Regions from separate parts of the Homo sapiens genome. Here regions 1 and 3 are each linked to region 2. The links come from fine-mapping of genetic effects on gene expression. A gene starts in region 2. Each other region holds a variant in brackets. All regions are shown on one strand. Distances are between the middles of the regions. Region 1 overlaps DCAF1 (DDB1 and CUL4 associated factor 1). Region 2 holds the start of PARP3 (poly(ADP-ribose) polymerase family member 3). Region 3 holds the start of IQCF1 (IQ motif containing F1).

Region 1 (6,636 bases), 540 kb before region 2:
TGGCTTTCACCCTATCCTAAAAGGGCTCTTCATAAGCCCAGTAAGGTTCAGAGCTACTGCTCTAAAGGATTAGTGTTAGGCAAAACCATGGGTGCTAAGAATGCTCTCCTTGCTGACAGCAGCTGGCTCTTCTATGAAACACAGAAAGAGCCATGGAGTGTGCTCCAGATGCCACCTCTGCATCTCCACCTCAATTCTGAAGTCCACTCTGAGACGTCCTCAAGTTGTGATCCATTATTTTCACATCGTAAATATTCTCATAAAGTAACAACATTCTCACAACTGATAGAGTTAAAGTTTTCCAGATTACCTTTGGCTTGAAAGAAGGAATTTCCTCAACAGCTAAAAGAGGCAGTAATTGTACAGGCCAAATACAAACTGAGTGGCTTTATATTCAAATTAAGAATGGAAAAATTAAAGTGATGCTCTCTTATTTTGGGAGCACCACCATCAGCTGGCCTGCTGTTTGCTGACCCTGCGAACCTGCCCTGCTAACTACTTGTAATTGAAAGGAGGTATAACTTGTTTCCCATGTCTCACTATTCACACGTGACAAAAACGTTCATTAAAACTTTGTCTGACCAGGCTTCGGCCTACTCCACTGAATCACCTCAGCCTCCAAGTATGAAAAAACAGAAGTTGATGAACAGCAGATGAACATATAGAAGACACTCCCCTACCCTCCCACCCTCAAGCTTCCTCAAAATACAGCCTTGGTAAGAAGATTCATGTACAGCTGCAGAGCTAACAGCCTCTTTGAACTATTTGCTGATTTCTGCAGGATTCATTACCATAGTCAGGGGACAACTTGACTTCAGAAACCTAATGGGAAATAACTAGAAGAACTGGAGTTTGTTCCTCAAAATTTGGATTAAGAAAAAAAGGTAAATAAAAGGAAGTGAATAAACCAGAAGCCAAAGGGAAAATATTTTCCCCTTGGCTGTTAGGAGGGATTAGCCAAAGGGAGACAGGAAAGGGCTCCTCCACAAGAGGGCCTGCATTTCTTTATAATTCACCCCAAAAAGAACAGCACCCCATGAGGGGCTGCTTCTGACTGATTCTAGCCATGCCTCTCGGCGGAGAGCTACACTTTGGCCTTTCATTCTAAGGCTAATCCTCTGAAGCAGGAGTTGACAAACTACAAGCCCACCACCTATTTTTGCAAAACAAAGTTTTATTAGAACACAGCCACAATCATTCATTTACGGATTGTCTATGACTGCTTTCTCACTACAACAGCAGAGTTGAAGAGCTGCAACAAAGGCCATATACCCTACAAAGCATTTTTTTTTTTTTTTTTTTTTTTTTGAGATGGAGTCTCACTCTATTATCCCAGCCTGGAGTGCAGTGGCACGATCTCGGCTCACTGCAACCTCCGCCTCCCAGGTTCAAGCGATTCTCCTGCCTCAGCCTCCCAAGTAGCTGGGATTATAGGCATGTGCCACCACGCCCAGCTAATTTTGTATTTTTAGTAGAGACAGGATTTCATCATGTTGCCCAGGCTGGTCTCGAACTCCTGACCTCAGGTGATCCACCCGCCTCAGCCTCCAAAGTGCTGGGATTACAGGCGTGAGCCACCGTGCCCGGCTGCATAAAATATTTACTGTCTGATCTTACAGAAAAAGTCTGCCAATCTCTACTTGAAAGATAAGAAATGACAGCCATTTGGTTGGGTTCCACAGTCTGACAGGAGAGGAGGGCAGAGATGCAAAGGTGCTTTGCCTCAAGAGACCAGAGTAGTGAATCAAATTATGGGGCACAGAACCGTGGTATGGCTTGCCCTCTAAGTTGTATGGGCACAAAAGAAGGGATCTTGCCCTGGGTGCCAAGGCTCAGCCTGAACTCTGCCCTATACTTACTGTCCCCCAGGATCAGTTCCACCTCCTCATCTGCATCAGAGTCTTCATCCTCCCCGTCCTCTCCCTCCTCTAGAAGGTTTGCTAGCTCCTCATCAGAGGGAGAGAAGTCATTGTCCCCATCTTCCCCTGCGTTCTCATTATTGTCGTCCTCCTCCAACTCCGCCTCCAGCAACTGGTCAGTGTCAAGCTCATCTAAATCATCGGTGTCATCATCATCTTCATCATCATCTTCTTCCTCCTGTTCTTCCTCTTCCTGGTAAGAAAGCGTAATGTTCATTAGTACAAACACAGAGGCCTGACCCATGGGGGCCACATGGCGGGTCGACCAAAGAGACAGGGTAGGAAACTGTCAGTAGAGGGTAGTAGTGATCTAGACGAGCACAGACTTCATGAGCCAGCCAGACTTGTCAGTGATGGCTGAGATAGGCACACATGTCCCTCAAGACGGTCAAAGCACCCCTCAGACAAGGATTAATGGTCACATAGCCCTTATGCAAGGAAACAGACAACTCGCTTCACAGAAGTCTCTGCCTTCAATATTCTAGGAGCCCAAGGGGACTCTTCTTTCTCACCTGCATCAACCAAAGCAAGTGAAATCAGCTGAGACACTAGAAAAAATCCTTTTACCTGGAATCTAAAATGCAATGCTTTAACAAAATGGAAGAACACAACTGCTCATTATCTCCTCAGCCCTTCAAGCTCTTGCCCTTGATCTTCTAACCAAGAATGT[G/A]GATAAGCTCCTAACTATGCTATCACAAACATTTGATCAGAACAACATTGCAACAAAAGACTTAAAATATAGAACACTAACAGAAACCCATATTTCCTGTCATAAGCCAAAAAGAAAAAAAAGTATGCTGGAGAAACTATCTTTCTTTCCATTCTTACAAGAACTTGCAAAGGCAAGAAAATTACCAGAACATCAATGAAATACTTTGTTCTAGGGACTCTGGGCTTTGTAAATGGTACATTCTGGCATCTGCCACAGATTTCAGGTTTGCATTAGAATCCCAACTGTTTCCCTTCAAAAGGGAGAGGACACAAAGATACCTCTTTGCTTTGACAGGGATAAGAGGCATTTCCAAGTAAACGTAGCTGCCACTCAAGACACTTATCTTTCTGCTCAAACATCAACTGTCAGCCTTGCCAATAGCAAAGGATTCTAATTGTTACAATAATAAAATGTAAAATTCATTTAATACATCAACCTAATGAAATTCAAGATGGAATAAGCCCAACGTAAGCACAAAAAAATTTTTTTTGTTCTTATTATTTTAAAACTTATACTCAGTGGTTACATCTTTTTTCATTTTGAAGGTGTTATTGCCTGCCAAGCACTTAAAAAACAAGCATTTTGTGCTTACCCAGCCACTAGAAACCAGTGTGTAACATAAGCTAGGATCATTCAGCAGGGTAGCTCCGCTTTGTGGACTTCTGGTAATTTTGGAACCACCATTAGTGACTTTTTGATAAACTGTGTAATTCAGTAATTTAGACTCTTCAAAATTTCTGCCAGTTATGTTGGAAAAACTGAGCCCCTTTTAAATACCTAGTACTCCTAATACTTGTGCAAGTGCGTGTATGGTCTGTACCAGATTCGGTGGGAGCATTTGTGTATGTGCCAACACACACACACATAGAAGGCCTGAGACTATTCCAAAGCCTTGGCCACACATCCCCTCCAGAGGTGAGTGGATAAATAACTACTAAGCATTCACCCGCCTCAAAGGAACTATGAGTGTCTGGAGTCAACAATGATAAACTGAAACACAGACAGGCTCTCAGCCCCTACAAGCACATAAGCTCATACAAATAACTGGGAAAGGAGAGCGGGGTCAAAATTCAGGGGATATCATCCAAGTGCTTACCAGATTACAACTTTTGCCTCTTTTTCCAGGCGTATTTTCATAGACTTGACCAAAATTAGCTAATCCACTAACAAAGTGCCACAGTTAAAAATAAGTAAGGAAGAAAGTACCCAGGGCCCTGTGTCTTAAGGCTTCGTGGACAGAACACTTATATTTAAAATTTAAGATAGCACAACTAAAGGTCCACGGTTGAGTGTGTACATGAAAGGTTAAACTGCTCAAATAGGCATGGGCTAGCCAGAAAATTCATGAAGACAATTCTCTTTCATTTTGAAGAACATTGAGGCTTAGCTGATCTAGAAGAACTGAACAAAAAGCTTCCATATCAAGAGCAATCCTGGAATATTTTCAAGCAGGGTCTAAGCTTTGAACTAGATACCATTCCAAACTCTTCCAGCAGCAGACAAACCCAAATTTTACTTAATTTTATAGCAGAAGAAACAGATGTATATATATTCATCCCAGAAGGCCACAAACACATATGTGACCATGAGAGAGAGGAGGGGAAATTAGTAGGAAAGAGATCTACCTGAATCTCAAGTTGAGCACCTCACTTTGTCGTCTCTACTTTGTATTTAATGCCCAATGCTGATTTCTCACCATGCATTTTGTCACACATGGACATAGCCATAAACTCACTTTCCAAATTTTAAATCTGAAACTGGGATCATGAAGCAGAGGCTCACAAGACTCATCCAAAATGCTGTGGCAGAACCCAAAAGAGATTCTAGGAAGCAATTTTAGGTGCATTCTCTGCTGGTCAAGTAACTGGTGGCATGAACCCCTCTCCTTCAGATCTAAAGAATAAAGCTTCCAATAATGAGTGGTCCAAAAAGTAAAAACTAAAAATAATTATTTAATGAAAAAGCAAAGCTTAGCTGGGCACAACGGCACACACCTGTAGTCCCAGCTACTCAGGAAGCTGAGGCAGGAGGATCACTTGAACCCAGGAATTCAAGGCTACATTGAACTACGATTGTGCCACTGCACTCCAGCCTGGGCAACAGAGTGAGATCCCATTTCTTTGAAAACAAAAACAAAAACAAAAACAGGCCGGGCGTGGTGGCTCACACCTGTAATCCCAACACTTTGGGAGGCTGAGGCGGGCAGATCACGAGGTAAGGAGATCAAGACCATCCCGGCTAACACAGTGAAACCCCGTCTCTATTAAAAATACAAAAAATTTGCTGGGTGTGGTGATGGGCACCTGTAGTCCCAGCTACTCTGGAGGCTGAGGCAGGAGAATGGCATGAACCCAGGAGGCGGAGCTTGCAGTGAGCCGAGATCGCGCCACTGCACTCCAACCTGGACAACAGAGCAAGACTCTGTCTCAAAAAAAAAAAAAAAAAAAAAAACCAAATTTTTCTAGAATCCTGACTCAACTCTGACAACATTTAGAAAATGTTTTGGATCCAGGGATATTGTTTTTTTTTTTAATTCTCTAAGACTTCTTTTAGGGCTTAGAGGAATTCAGGGCCAGGCCATTTTAAATTAAGGTACTAATAAATTTCTCTACAGAAAGAATTCTAAAACTCTTCTCTCCTTAATTCCACCTACATCAATTTCATGGTTACCCAAAGCCCCCAAACCCTGCAGATAAACAACTCACCCCTTTCCTTTACAGAAAATAGGTCAACTGGCATAAGCTCCCTCCGCTGCTCTCTGGTCCCCTCTACATCTAAACCTGGCTTCAGCCCTGGTCTGAGGAGGAAGCATGCTACCCACTCCTGCTCTGGATCTCAACCAACCCTGAGACCCTGTTACCACAGACACTTTTCTCATCCCCACCTCACCACCACCTTCACACTGGCTTCTCACTTTCTATGCCAAGAGGTTCAGTTCTCCCAAACCTAATAAGCTCTCCATCTACATAGGCTTCAGATGCCTTTTACCTACACTTTGGCTGGGCGCAGTGGCTCACACCTGTAATCCCAGCACTTTGGGAGGCCAAGGCGGGTGGATCACCTGAGGTCAGGAGTTCGAGACCAGCCTGGGCAACAGGGTGAAACCTCGTCTCTACTAAAATACAAAATTAGTCGGGTGTGGTGGCACATGCCTTTAGTCCCAGCTACTTGGGAGGCTGAGACAGAAGAATTGCTTGAACCTAGGAGGCGGAAGCCTGGGCGAGACAGAGTGAGACTCCATCTCAAAAAAAAAAAAAAAAAAAAACAACAACAAAACCGTCATTCAAATCTGATCCTGACCTTTATGTAACATGTCATATTTTGCTAAATGTATAAATGCCTACTTTTTAAAAAATACTTTTTCTGTCCTTAAAGGCTATAGGTTCACTTTAGGGTCATAAATGTTTGTTTTTCTTTCCTCAATGGCAGAATCTAACTCAAGTTACATTTCAATTCTTTAAGAAAATGAGGCCTTTCAGGAATCAACACATTCAGCTCTGACCAGGTGTGTGTAATCAGTAAAGACTCTTAACATCCGCTTCTAGGCAGTGGAGAACACACAGGAAGCACAGCACACAGTGTGTCCCAGACTCCAAAATGGAGTGGAAAACAGAGAGCATTATTCCTTTGTTGAGTTTTTTATTATAAATTTAAGGTTAAGTATAATTAGCTAAAATGTATTGGCTTGTCAAAATCTAGGAGCAATGATCAATTACTTATCTTGGGTTTTGTAACTTTTCTAAAAGTCAAATCAAAGATGAATGAACTGATTTCTAAAAACACAGGCACCAGGTTGGGCGCGGTGGCTCATGCCTATAATCCCAGCACTTTGGGAGGCCGAGGTGGGCGGATCACCTGAGGTCAGGAGTTCGAGATCAGCCTGGCTAACATGGTGAAACCCCATCTCTACTAAAAATACAGAATTGGCCGGTTGTGGTGGCAGGCGCCTACAATCCCAGCTACTCAGGGAGGCTGAGGCAGATTTGCCTGAACCTGGGAGGTGGA
Region 2 (6,487 bases):
ACGGAGCTGCTCTAGGTAGAGCTTGGCCAAGCGCAGCTTCTTTTCCTGTGCAGTTTCCTCCAGCTCCTCCTCCTCCTCCTCCTCAGGCTTCCTTGGAGCTAGGCTGTGGGCAGGAAGGGGCTGGGTCTGAGGGGCTCACCTTGTTCCTCTGACCGCTAGGATCGTGCCTTCTGGATGCTCACCTTGCCATCCAACCTCCCCTATTCCCTGCTAGCCCACATGGTCGGTGACTACACTGCAGAAAACTGAAGGATGTGACTCCCCAAACTAAAAGGCCCCACTCAGTGCCCCACGTAGGGGTGGAAACAGACCCAAATCCCAAAGAGATCACTAAAGCCTCTCAACTCTGGGGGAAAGAGGAGGCTTCCAAGAGAAACCAGGCTTCCAAAAGAAATCAGGTCACATACAAAGAGTCAGGAATCAAAATGTGCAGGCATCTCAACAGCAATACTGAGAACAAGAAGACAAAGAAGCCTCACACACAAAGCTCTGGAGGAATACACTGACCCCTAAAATGCCATGCCCAGTCAAACAATCAACGACGACACTGCCAGGTGTGCAAGGTGCCATGGAATTTTCTCCCTCTTTTTCTTTAGGAAGGATAGAAGCTGTGCTCCCAAACAAGAGGGTAAACTGGGAAAGAGAAAGGCAAGGGATACCGGAAACCAGAGATGCGACACAAGAGAGCAGAAAGGGTGACACTATCCCCAGACATGACGGGGGCAGTCTGGATCAGATCCAAGGACCCACCAGGCAGACACACCAGGACTGTCATCACCACAGCACCATCCTTTACCCTGGGAACAAGGTTCCAAGCGAACCTTCACTGTTTGGGGATTGGCCTTTACTGGTGAAGTTACGGCTTTCCCCTCCATGCCCCAGCCCCCGGACCAGCTGAGAGTACTCACTTCACCCAAAGACAGGTGCTGCTTTGACCTGCTCCTGGGAGCTGGGGGTAGGTCATGGGCACTCAGACACAGAGAATCCAAGGCAGCCCACTCCCTCTGATCATGTGCCTGAAGACATCTAGTCTCTGTCCACTCCCCTAACCGTGTTTCCCAAGACTCACTCGTAAACCTGCCCCTGACTTCCCCAGAAGGGACCTTGAAAACTCTCAGGAAAGCCAAAGCTGGACCATGCCCCAGAAATAATTTAGTGCCCTGTGCCTGGCAAGCCTTCAGCCAACAGGGCTAGTGCTGCCCTTCCCTTACACAGCCAAGGGACCTGTGTTAACTTCGGACTTCTACTCAATTTAGCCAAACTAATTAATCTATTGTTGAAGGATTCATACGCATGAGACAGAACGCTAAAGAAATGCAAGGGAAGTACACACTATGATTCCATTTACAGGGCATGCTAGAAAATGCACAACTCTAGGGGCAGTGGTTAGCAGAGACTTGGGGGGAAGGAGAGGGGCTGACTACGAAGGAGCAGGAGGAGTTCTGGAGGGTGATGAAACTCTTTACCTTCAGGGTAGAGGTGGTCACACAACTGTGTGTGTTTGTCAAAACTCACTGAACTATAACTTTAAAAAGGGCATGTTACTATATGTAAATTATACCTAAATGGAAAATGTTAATTTTTTAAAAGAAGAACAAAGAAACCAAAGAAATGATTAACTCAAGTTAGGAATGACAGTTGCGGCTTCTAAGTTTCTGCAAATGTTCTAGTTCTTAACCTAAGTGGTAAGTAAGTGTACAGAGGTTTACCATTTTACCATTACTCTCTGTAGTGCAAATATATCTCATTCACTTTTCTGTATCTAACACACTTCACAACACAACATTCTAAAAATATTTAAAAGCACTTAGCCCACACTAGCCTGGCACACACTCACCCACAATAACCTTCGGATTAAGAAAAGTACATTAATGGCTGGGTGTGGTGGCTCACGCCTATAATCCCAGCACTCTGGGAGGCTAAGATGGGCGGATCACTTGAGGTCAGGAGTTCGAGACCAGCCTGGCCAACATGGTGAAACTCCATCTCTACTAAACATACATAATTAGCCAGGCATGGTGGTGCAGGCCTATAATCCCAGCTACTCAGGTGGCTGAGGCAGGAGAATCACTTGAACCTGGGAAGCAGAGGTTGCAGTGAGCCGAGATCGCACCACTGCACTCCAGCCTGGGCAACAGAGTGAGACTCTGTCTCAAAAACAAAAAAAAAAAGTACATTCTTTCCATGAGCAAATTAAGGCAACACATACTCAATTTTAGAAGCGAGTTCTAAAGTCAACTCATAGGGAAGGCACTAGGATTCTCTGGTCCAAGAGCCTCCAACCCACAGGGTCAGGCCTGACACCATGCCTGACCCTTTGAAAACCTGCAAGCAACCACACCCATCACCTGCAGAAATGAGGGAGGCATCCAAAGCCCTCTACAATCTACATGCACTTATGACCAGTCCTCCTGTTTTTGTGTGTGGTTTTTTTTTAGAGACAGGATCTTGCTGTCACCCAGACTGGAGAGCAGTGCATGATCATAGTTCACTGCAGCTTCAACTCCCTGGGAAGGGATCCCCAAACCTTAGCCTCCTGAGTAGTTGGGACTACAGGTGCACACCACCATACCCAGCTAACTTTTTTTTTTTGTACAGACAAGATCTCGCTATGTTGCCCAGGCTGGTCTCAAACTCCTGACATCAAGCAATCCTCCCGCCTTGGCCTCCCAAAGTGCTGGGATTAGAGGCATGAGTTACCAGGCCCAGCCCCCTTTCATCTTTTCTACTGCCCATTCTGGCACACTTACACCTCAGACTTTCCTCTGATCACTGAATGCCTTCCCTACCTCTCCGTGAGAGACTCCTCTTCATCTCTCAAGACCCTATTTAAATGTCCCTCCTCTGTTCCCAGAACACACAACTATAAAATACACACCTCACTACAACACACTCTCTTCACCCGCCTGCCTATCTCTGCACTTCCAACAGCAAAGGCAGTGCCTGGCATGTTAAGAGACGGGGAGCCCAGTAATTGTGAAATTGCAGGAAAACTGGCAAGGGAAGAAGGATGCAAGAAATACTTGACAGCTTTGTTCTGTTTTCCTGCAATTTCTCAATCAGTCCAGTCCCTGCCAAAACCTAAGGAGGTCTCAATGGCCTCGGATTGGGGCCCAGGGTCCTTCCCACCCAGAGACCTCGCAGAAACAAGACTTTGCAGGACCAGAAACTAAAGGAAACAGCCACGATCTCAGAGCCAAGGGACAGAGTCTTGGATTCTAGGCTCAGTTCTGTTCGGACTCACTCAGTCTTCCGTGCACCATGGGACTCAGTTTTCCCTCCCACTATGTGGAAAAGAATAGCTCACCTCTCGCTCTCAGAGTCGCTGGAGATCTCCTCATTCATCTTGCCGCCACCCTTGGATTTGCCCCTGTCCCCCGCAGAGTCGGCCTGGGAATTATACGGTCTTTTCTTTGGTCAGGGGTCCAGACCACCCTGGCATTGACCAAGGGCCCCCCCCCCTCGGTTCCCTCAGAACCCCAGGAATGGGGAAGGCGGTGGTTCCCGGGTTAAGCGAACGGCTTTCTAGGATTTGGCCCGCGGAGAGAGGGACGAAGCTGACTCCAGCAGGGGTCCAGGGCGAAGGGCTGGGGAAGGGCCGGGACCCAGGTCCCCTGGATGGGATGACGGTTGTCCCAGTAGCAGGGCTGACCGCGGCCCTCAGAAGCGCCATGCTCACCTTTCGCCGCCGCTTGCCGGCCCCCGCGCCAGCCCCGGCCCCAGAGGCCGGCTTTCCCCGCTTACGAGCAGCCGCTGTTGCCGACATGCTGCCCACCAGGCGTGTAGCAGCGGCCGCAGAACTCACGTGGCAGCTGAACCCTCCCAGCTCCCCAGCCGCCTGGCAAGACCCCGCGTATTGATAGGCTTCCACCGCCCGCCGGGCCCCGCCTCCTACTGCTCCATTGGGTCCTTCTGCAGGCTCTGCCACGCCCCCAGGCACCCATAGGATGCACGCTTGTAGCCCCGCCTCCTGAAGTTCCTAGGCTCCCGCACCAGGCTCGAGTAGGAAGCCCGCATCTCCACGGCGCTTCCGGCCTGATGCTGTGGCGCTTGCGCTCTGCTGCTGGCCCACTTCGAAGTCGGAGCAAGAGCCTTCTCTGTGTTTGCGCCCCTTGGCCGCTGGGGGGCGCCAGAGACGCGGCGCCCTTTCGCGTTCTGGAACGTGACTCCTCCCCTCCATGGGCAGCCCGGCGCTAGACCCAACGGGGATCCAAGCAGCCCCGGGGAGAGGGAGGCTGCGTCTGTATCCGGGCCCAAGGTCACCGCGCGACCGGCAGATGCGTGCTGCAGGCCCCGGCCACATGAGCAGCGCTACGGACGCGACTGCCCCGGCCTTGGATATGCCAGATCGAGTGTCCACCCGTCCGTGGGACTGGTCGCCTGACTCGGCCTGCCCCAGCCTCTGCTTCACCCCACTGGTGGCCAAATAGCCGATGTCTAATCCCCCACACAAGCTCATCCCCGGCCTCTGGCGATTGTTGGGAATTCTCTCCCTAATTCACGCCTGAGGCTCATGGAGAGTTGCTAGACCTGGGACTGCCCTGGGAGGCGCACACAACCAGGCCGGGTGGCAGCCAGGACCTCTCCCATGTCCCTGCTTTTCTTGGGTGAGTGTCCTATGGTCCTGCCCACGGCAGGGCAGGGCAAGGCCTGGTGGGACTGGCCTTTGCCCTCTATCAGTTCAAGGCCACTGATCCGGAGTTCTGGCTCCTCAGAACTCTTGAGTCCATTGGGAAGGGCTTCTACAGCTCTGGGTTCTAAGCTCCGGGAGGATAATCTGGCCCCAAGAATCCTGCCCCCAGGATCCTCTGCCCACCCTCCCCCATAGCTCGGTGACTCGGCCCGGCAACCATGCCAGGGCTGAACTAGCTGACACAGGGGGAGGAGCCCCGAAGTGGAAGAGAGAGAGCCTCCTTTCACTTTCCCTACCCCTCAGGACACACAGGTGAGCTGCAGAGGGTAGGGAGCCAGGCAGACCCTGTTGACCAGAGTGGGCAGACTGGACAGAGTCCTAACCTTGCACTTGGGACTGGGGAAAGGGGTGTTTCTGAGTGACAAAGAGCTGGGTGTGGTCTGGGGCTGGGAATGCCGTCAGAGTGGACACAGGATGCAGTGGGAGGCCACCGAAGGGCCAACCCGGGGTGGGGCAAGTTGGTGCTGTGCTGGCCCAGGGCAGGGGTGGGGACTGAGAGTGGGTCGTTGGGGATGAGGAGACCATGGAGGCCTAAGGGCCTCTCTGTGCCCCAGGACAGCCATGGCTCCAAAGCCGAAGCCCTGGGTACAGACTGAGGGCCCTGAGAAGAAGAAGGGCCGGCAGGCAGGAAGGGAGGAGGACCCCTTCCGCTCCACCGCTGAGGCCCTCAAGGCCATACCCGCAGAGAAGCGCATAATCCGCGTGGATCCAACATGTCCACTCAGCAGCAACCCCGGGACCCAGGTGAGCTGCAGTCCCCAGTCAGGCCCAGAGCCTGCCCACTGATAAGCACAAACACACCCAGGCCACCCCCTTAGGACTCTGTTCTGGTTTTGGAGCCCAAGGCCCCCAGGTAAGCGCCAGAGCAAGGCCATGTTCTCCTGACCCCAGACATCAGGGCTGTGTCCCGTCAGGTCCAGGCGGGTCACATCTGCCCTTCAGACCCCATGCAGGCCTCCTCCCACCGCACTTAGGGAAAGGCTGTGACTACATCAGTCTCCTGGGCGCTTGCCCATGTCCCCTCAGGGCAGAGCCATGTCCCTCTCAGATTCCCCCATCCAGGGCCCAGCTGTGTCCCCCCCAGCACCCCCCATACCTCCATGTCAGGGTTTAGCCATGTCCTCTCACACCGCATCCCCTAGGGAAGAGCAGTGACCCCCCCAAGCTTCCAAGACAGGGTCCCTCTGACTCCCACTGCCGTCAGACTCCTGTCCCCATCAGAGCCCTCTCGGTGTACGGCCAGGCACCCCATCTGACCCCAGCCAGCCTGCCCCCCACCTCCCCTCTGGCCCAGGTGTATGAGGACTACAACTGCACCCTGAACCAGACCAACATCGAGAACAACAACAACAAGTTCTACATCATCCAGCTGCTCCAAGACAGCAACCGCTTCTTCACCTGCTGGAACCGCTGGGGCCGTGTGGTGAGTGCCCTGCCTGCTCTGCACATACTCCCCAGGGTCCTCAAAAGGCCACAGCTACTGACTTGGGGGGGCACCTCCCAACTGTCCCAGGGCACTCAGCACAGGGCCTGGCCCGACACACAGGCCAGCAAATGCTGATGGTGGGCATACCCCTGAAGGCTGTCGGTTGCAGGGAGAGGTCGGCCAGTCAAAGATCAACCACTTCACAAGGCTAGAAGATGCAAAGAAGGACTTTGAGAAGAAATTTCGGGAAAAGACCAAGAACAACTGGGCAGAGCGGGACCACTTTGTGTCTCACCCGGGCAAGTACACACTTATCGAAGTACAGGCAGAGGATGAGGCCCAGGAAGCTGTGGTGAAGGTGAGATGGC
Region 3 (6,636 bases), 35 kb before region 2:
TGCCTTTGACTCTGCTCCTAAGGACAAATGGGTTGGCATCTCCTTCTGCTGAGGCTCATCTTCTTTTGAGGGTTCCTTCGTCTTTTGGGGCTGCTTCTCCTCCTGCAATCAGCATTAGGGGAAAGGCAAGAGTGAGGCTGCGGTCCCTCCCTCTCCATTCAATATGGCACACATCCCCAGCTTCCAGGGCTTCTTAGAGTCTTCAGTGTCAGGGGGTCCCTTCACCCTGAGAGATCTATGGGGACATCCCTAACAAGCCTGGTGTGTCTGGCTTTCTCTTACCATTGGTCACATATGGATTGATTGTAGATGGTTCAAATCCCCTCACATCTGTGTTCATCCAGCCATAGCATAGGCAGGAAGGGTGGAGGAAGAAAGGCCTGTGATGTCATAAGGGCACCTGTGACTCAGGCACCAGATGGCTCCTAACAAGTGAGCCCCCTCCAAGGGAAAGACAAAAGCGCTGCCCATTCTTTTCTGCCAGAAATGGCCAAAGCCCTGACTTCAAAGGCAAGATGCCAGAAATACTGGCCCATTGCTGTAAGGTTTATAAAAAGCCAGTCATTTCTAATAACATTTAATTGAAAAAACTTGGCCAGGCGCAGTGGCTCAGGCCTGTAATCCCAGCACTTTGGGAGGCCGAGGCAGGCAGATCAACTGAGGTCAGGAGTTCGAGACCAGCCTGGCCAACATGGCAAAACCTTGTCCCTACTAAAATTACAAAAATTAGCTGGGTGTGGTGGCTGTCACCTGTAATCCCAGCTACTCAGGAGGCTGAGACAGGAGAATCGCTTGCACCCAGGAGGTGGAGTTTGCAGTGAGCCAGGATCATGCCACTGCACTCCAGGCTGGGCAAGAGAGCAAGACTCCATCTCAAAAAAAAAAAAAAAAGAAAAGAAAAAACTTATATAGCCAACTTAAATAATCAATAGGGGATTAATTTAATGATGCATAGTTCATTCATACTATAAAATACTACATAACTATTAAAAATAAGAATTTGATCTATATTACTAATGAGGAAATATATAAAGATGTATTTATAAGTAAAAAACTAAAGTTCCTTTTGATCCCACTATGCAAACAAAACTAGGAACATAATTATACACATAAAATTGAATAATTTATGCCAGAAGTTATTACATGATACACATTATATGTTGTAAATGAATATAAAGAAGAAAAAAGGTATATATACCAAACTATTACCAATGATTACCTTTGGAGAGGAGAGTTAAATTGCTGACTCATGCCTAACACAGTCCCCAAGGAACCCCATGAGGGCCTGAGGACCAGCCTGGACTCCATCTGAGGCTCAAATGGGTCCAAGTGCTCTCCTGTCTTCCTCTGTCCCTGGGGTCTCAAGGCCACAATCAGATGGATGAAGGTGGCCACTGCACAAGCATGGCCCCTTTCTGCCTGATCTCGGCCTCTGAAGACCCAGCTGGACAGGGTAAGGCCATGAGAGGCACAGCCCCTGGGGTCACTGAGAAGTGCACTTGAAATGTATAGGGTGAGTATGGGAGAGGCCAATGTGGATCTGTAGGGGGAATGTAGGGAAGAGGAGGAGGCCATTTGAGGCTGGGATGTGAAGTTAATGGGATGAGGGGGTGGAGAATATGGGAATACATTGAAAGATGTGGGAAGTTGTGGGTGTGATATAGTTTGGCTCTGTGTCCCCACCCAAATCTCATCTTGAATTTTAACTCCCGCAATTCCCATGTGTTGTGGAAGGAACCTGGTGGGAGGTGACTGAATTATGGGGGCAGGTCTTTCCTGTGCTGTTCTCATGATAGTGAATGAATCTCAAGAGATTTGATGGTTTTAAAAATGGGAGTTTGGGCTGGGTGCAGTGGCTCATGCCTGTAATCCTAGAACTTTGGGAGGCTGAGGCGGGAGGATCATGAGGTCAGGAGATCAAGACCATCCTGGCTAACACGGTGAAACCCCGTCTCTACTAAAAATACAAAAAATTAGCCAAGTGTGGTGGTTGACACCTGTAGTCCCAGTTACTGGGGAGGCTGAGGCAGCAGAATGGCATGAACCTGGGAGGCAGAGCTTGCAGTGAGCTGAGATCATGCCACTGCACTCCAGCCTGGGCGACAGAGCAAGACTCCATCTCAAAAAAAAAAAAAAAGGCAGTTTGCCTGCACAAGCTCTCTTTGCCTGCTGCCATCCATGTAAGACGTGATTTGCTCCTCCTTGCCTTCCACCATGATTGTGAGGCCTCCTCAGCCATGTGGAACTGTAAGTCCAATTAAACCTCTTTCTTTTGTAAATTGCCCAGTCTTCAGTATGTCTTTTCAGCAGCTGAAAATGGACTAATACAGTAAATTGGTACCAGTAGAGTGGGGTGTTGCTGAAAAGATACCCAAAAATGTGGAAGCAACTTTGGAACTGGGTAACAGGCAGAGCTTGGAACAGTTTGGAGGACTCAGAAGAAGACAGGAAAATGTGGGAAAGTTTGGAACTTCCTAGAGATTTGTTGAATGGCCTTGACCAAAAAGCCTGATAGTGATATGGACAATAAGGTCCTGGCTGAGGTGATCTCAGATGGAGATGAGGAGCTTCTTGGGAACTGGACCAAAGGTGACTCTTATGTCGCCAAAAAGAGACTGGCAACATTTTGCCCCTTCTGTAGAGATTTGTGGAACTTTGAACTCGAGAGAGGTGACTTAGGGTATCTGGCAAAATAAATTTCTAAGCAGCAAAGCATTCAAGATGTGACTTGGGTGCTGTTAAGAGCATTCAGTTTTATAAGGGAAGCAGAGCATAAAAGTTCAAAAAGTTTTCAGCCTGACAATGTGATAGAAAAGAAAACCCCATTTTCTAAGGAGAAATTCAAGCCGACTTCAGAAATTTGCATAAGTAATGAGGAGCCAAATGTTAATCCCCAAGACAATGGGGAATATGTCTCCAGGACATGTCAGAGGCCTTCACAGCAGCCCCCCATCGCAAGCCCAGAGGCCCAGGAGAAAATGGTTTCATGGGTTGGGCCCAGAGTC[C/T]CTGTGCTGTGTGCAGCCTAGGGACTTGGTGGCCTGTGTCCCAGCCACTCCAGCCATGGCTGAAAGGGGCCAATGTACAACTCAGGCTGTGGCTTCAGAGGGTGCAAGCCCCAAGCCTTGGCAGCTTCCACATGGTGTTGAGCCTGTGAGTACACAGAAGTCAAGAATTGGAGTTTGGGAACTTCCGCCTAAATTTCGGAGGATGTATGGAAATGCCTGGATGCCCAGGCAGAAGTTTGCTGCAGAGGCTGGGCTCTCATGGAGAACCTCTGCTAGGGCAGTGTGGAAGGGAAATGTAAGGACAGAGGTCCCACACAGAGTCCCTATTGGGGAACCGCCTAGTGGAGCTGTGAGAAGAGGTCTACTGTCCTCCAGACCCCGGAATGGTAGATCCAGCTTGCACTGTTCACCTGGAAAAGCCACAGACACTGATCGCCAGCCCATGAAAGCAGCTGGGAGGGAGCCTGTACCCTGCAAAGCCACATGGGTGGAGCTGCCCAAAACCATGGGAACCTACCTCTTGCATCAGCATGACCTGGATATCAGACATGGAGTCAAAGTAGATCATTTTGAAGCTTTAAGATTTGACTGCCCCACTAGATTTCGGACTTGCATGGGGCCTGTAGCCTCTTTGTTTTGGCCAATTTCTCCCATTTAGAATGGCTGTATTTACCCAATGCCTGTACCCTCATTATATCTAGGAAGTAACTAACTTGCTTTTGATTTTACAGGCTCATAGGCAGAAGAGACTTGCCTTGTCTCGGATGAGACTTTGGACTGTGGACTTTTGAGTTAATGCTGAAATGAGTTGAGACTTTGGGGGACTGCTGGGAAGGCATGATTTGTTTTGAAATGTGAGAACATGAGATTTGGGAGGGGCCAGGGGTGGAATGATATGGTTTGGCTCTGTGTCCCCACCCAAATCTCATCTTGAATTATAACTCCCACAATTCCCACATGTTGTGGGAGGAACCTGGTGGGAGGTGATTGAATTATGGGGGCAGGTCTTTCCTACGCTTTTCTTGTGATAGTGAATGAGTCTCATGAGATCTGATGGTTTTAAAAAATGGGAGTTTGGGCTGGGCGTGGTGGCTTACACCTGTAATCCCAGCACTTTGGGAGGCCGAGGCGGGCAGATCACCTGAGGTCAGGAGTTCGAGACCAGCCTGGCTAACGTGGTGAAACCCTGTTTCTACTAAAAATACAAAAAATTAGCTGGGCATGGTGGCTTGTGCCTGTAATCCCACTACTCAGGAGGCTGAGACAGGAGAATCGCTTGAACCTGGGAGACAGAGGTTACAGTGTGCCAAGATGATGCCATTGCACTCCAGCTTGGGCAACAAGAGTGAAACTTCGTCTCAAAAAAAAAAAATGGGGGTTTGCCTACAGTAGCTCTCTTTGCCTGCTGCCATCCATGTAAGACACGACTTGCTCCTCCTTGCCTTCTGCCATGATTGTGAGGCTTCCCCAGCCATGTGGAACTGTAAGTCCAATTAAACCTCTTTCTTTTGTAAATTGCCCAGTCTTGGGTATGTCTTTATCAGCAGCCTGAAAATGGACTAATAGAGGGTGTGACAGAGAAGGTGTGATATGTGTTCATTTGAGGATAATAGGATACAGGCCTTTGTTGTAACACTAGTCAGTTTTTTACTTCCCCCAACTCCCAACACTCCCTACACCTCCCCACCAACACACACACACATACTCATGAAAGCCTTGTGCTTCATTATCTGGAAGAATAAACCCCAAACTCCTCACGACCTAAGTAGTGGGCATCGGTTTTTTGAGAGAGAAGAAGACAAAAAAGTCCAGGTGTGGTGGCTCACACCTGTAATCCCAGCACTTTGGGAGGCCAAGGCAGGTGGATCACTTGCACCCAGGAGTTTGAGACCAGCCTGGGCAACATAACGAAACCCTGTATCTACAAAAAATACAAAAATCAGCCAGGCATGGTGGTGTGCATTTGTAGTCCCACCTACTTGGGAGACAGAGGTGGGAAAATCACCTGAGCCCAGGGAGGTCGAGGCTGCAGTGAGCCATGATTGCACCATTGCACTCCAACCTGGGTGACAGAGCGAGACCCAGTCTTTAAAAAAAAAAAGATAGAAAATTTAAATCAAAAATCTAATTACTGATCAGAATATATGGGGTAACTCACATCCTGTGAAGAATAAAAAGCCCTGGCAACATCAAGAGAGGAAATGAAACGTATAAAGGCTGGTCTGGGCATGGAAGGGCTTCCCTCCAGAGTAGCCAGAAAGGAGGAAGAAACGCCACTGCATGGGAATGTCAGAGGGCTCCACCTCCAGTTAGGATGCAGAGGGTCACAAAATACTCCCGCAACAACTGCACAATAAGAAAACACCTGACAAACTTAAAACATCACATAGCAGTAGGTATGGAGCATCTAAAACTGAATTCTAAAGTGGCTCTGTCCCTGTCTAGTTGCACGGAGGTTAGTGGCTGCTTTCATGCCTGTGGATATGTACCAAATCTCTGGACACAAGGACCTGCAGGAGTAAGCCCGCCATATGCAGTGAAATGCTGTGATGGGGAGAAACCAGCTGAACTTGAACTTTCAATGGTTGCATGCGAGCTGCAAGACAATTTGGAATCTGGAAAAGCCACACACACACACACACACACACACACACACACACACACACACACACACACACACAGTGAGTCCTCTGCTGCCACCATTCCCTCCCATGGGACTTCTGCTGGACCCACAGCAGCACAGGGAGCCAGGGGCTGGCCTGGACAGCAGAGAGAGCTCTCAAGTCTCACAGTGCTAATATTCCACACTTTTGCTGGAGAAAGGAGCCTGATCCCAGCCTCAAGACATTTGAAACTGAGGGGGATGCAAACCAACTAAAGTGTCAAAACAGCCCCAACCTAACTGAACTCCTGATTAGTTGAAAAATGGCCCACCCTAGTCTCTACTGCTTTTATCTAGTGTTTGCATACAATTTTAAAAATGAGACACATGAAGAAGCAGAAAAATGTGACCTGTAATCAAAAGGAAAAAAAGCAATAGAAGCAGACTCACAGATGACTCATATGTTAGAATTAGCAAAGACTTTGAAACAACAAAGATTATATAAATAGACATATAATCGAAAATAATTTACAGGTAAAGGTAGAAAAAAATGAATAAAAAGATGGAGAATTTTGGCAGACAAATGGAAACTCTAAAAAACAGAATACAAGAAATGCAATTTTTTTTTCTACTTAAAGAGACAGGGTGTTGTTATATCATCCACTTTAGTCTCAAACTCCTGAGCTCAAGAAACACTCCTGAGTAGTAGGGACTACAAGCACGTGCCACCATGCCTAGTTCTGAAATTCTAAAACTGAAAAATACAATACCCAAAATGAATAGTTCACTAGAGAGAGTAACAAAAGAAAGGATTATCAAACTCAAAGGCAGGTCAAAAAATTATACGAACATGATAAATACAAAGAAAACTACATATAGGGACAATAATGAAATTGATAAAAATCAAGGGAAAAGAAAATTGTTTCTAAAAAACCAGGTGGTTCCTGCCTGTAATCCCAGCACTTTGGGAGGCTGATATGGGCAGATCACTTGAGGTCAGGAGTTCGAGACCAGCCCGGCCAACATGGT

The links. PIP is the estimated chance that this variant, and not a neighbour inherited with it, causes the effect. A credible set is the group of variants that fine-mapping cannot tell apart.
Region 1: its variant is the best candidate, but not a certain one, in a credible set for the expression of PARP3 in lung (TOPMed, PIP 0.53).
Region 3: its variant is the best candidate, but not a certain one, in a credible set for the expression of PARP3 in whole blood (TOPMed, PIP 0.81).

The regions. Positions count from the first base shown.
Region 1 is chr3:51,401,284-51,407,919 of GRCh38, forward strand. DCAF1 (DDB1 and CUL4 associated factor 1) reads right to left here. Exons shown (of 25, transcript NM_001387579.1): 24 at 1,860-2,112. Among named protein-coding and RNA genes, the nearest start is that of RBM15B, 13 kb to the left of the region's middle. The variant G/A (reference allele first, on the strand shown) is at 2,590.
Region 2 is chr3:51,938,102-51,944,588 of GRCh38, forward strand. PARP3 (poly(ADP-ribose) polymerase family member 3) reads left to right here and starts at 4,262. Exons shown (of 11, transcript NM_001003931.4): 1 at 4,262-4,607; 2 at 5,253-5,437; 3 at 5,988-6,116; 4 at 6,289-6,477. The coding sequence starts at 5,255. It overlaps RRP9 (ribosomal RNA processing 9, U3 small nucleolar RNA binding protein), which reads right to left and starts at 3,803. Exons shown (of 15, transcript NM_004704.5): 1 at 3,680-3,803; 2 at 3,308-3,390; 3 at 1-103. The coding sequence starts at 3,766. RefSeq lists enhancers at 3,165-3,813, 3,938-4,267.
Region 3 is chr3:51,902,988-51,909,623 of GRCh38, forward strand. It overlaps IQCF1 (IQ motif containing F1), which reads right to left and starts at 366. Exons shown (of 4, transcript NM_152397.3): 1 at 283-366; 2 at 1-102. The coding sequence starts at 285. RefSeq lists an enhancer at 1-123. The variant C/T (reference allele first, on the strand shown) is at 3,006.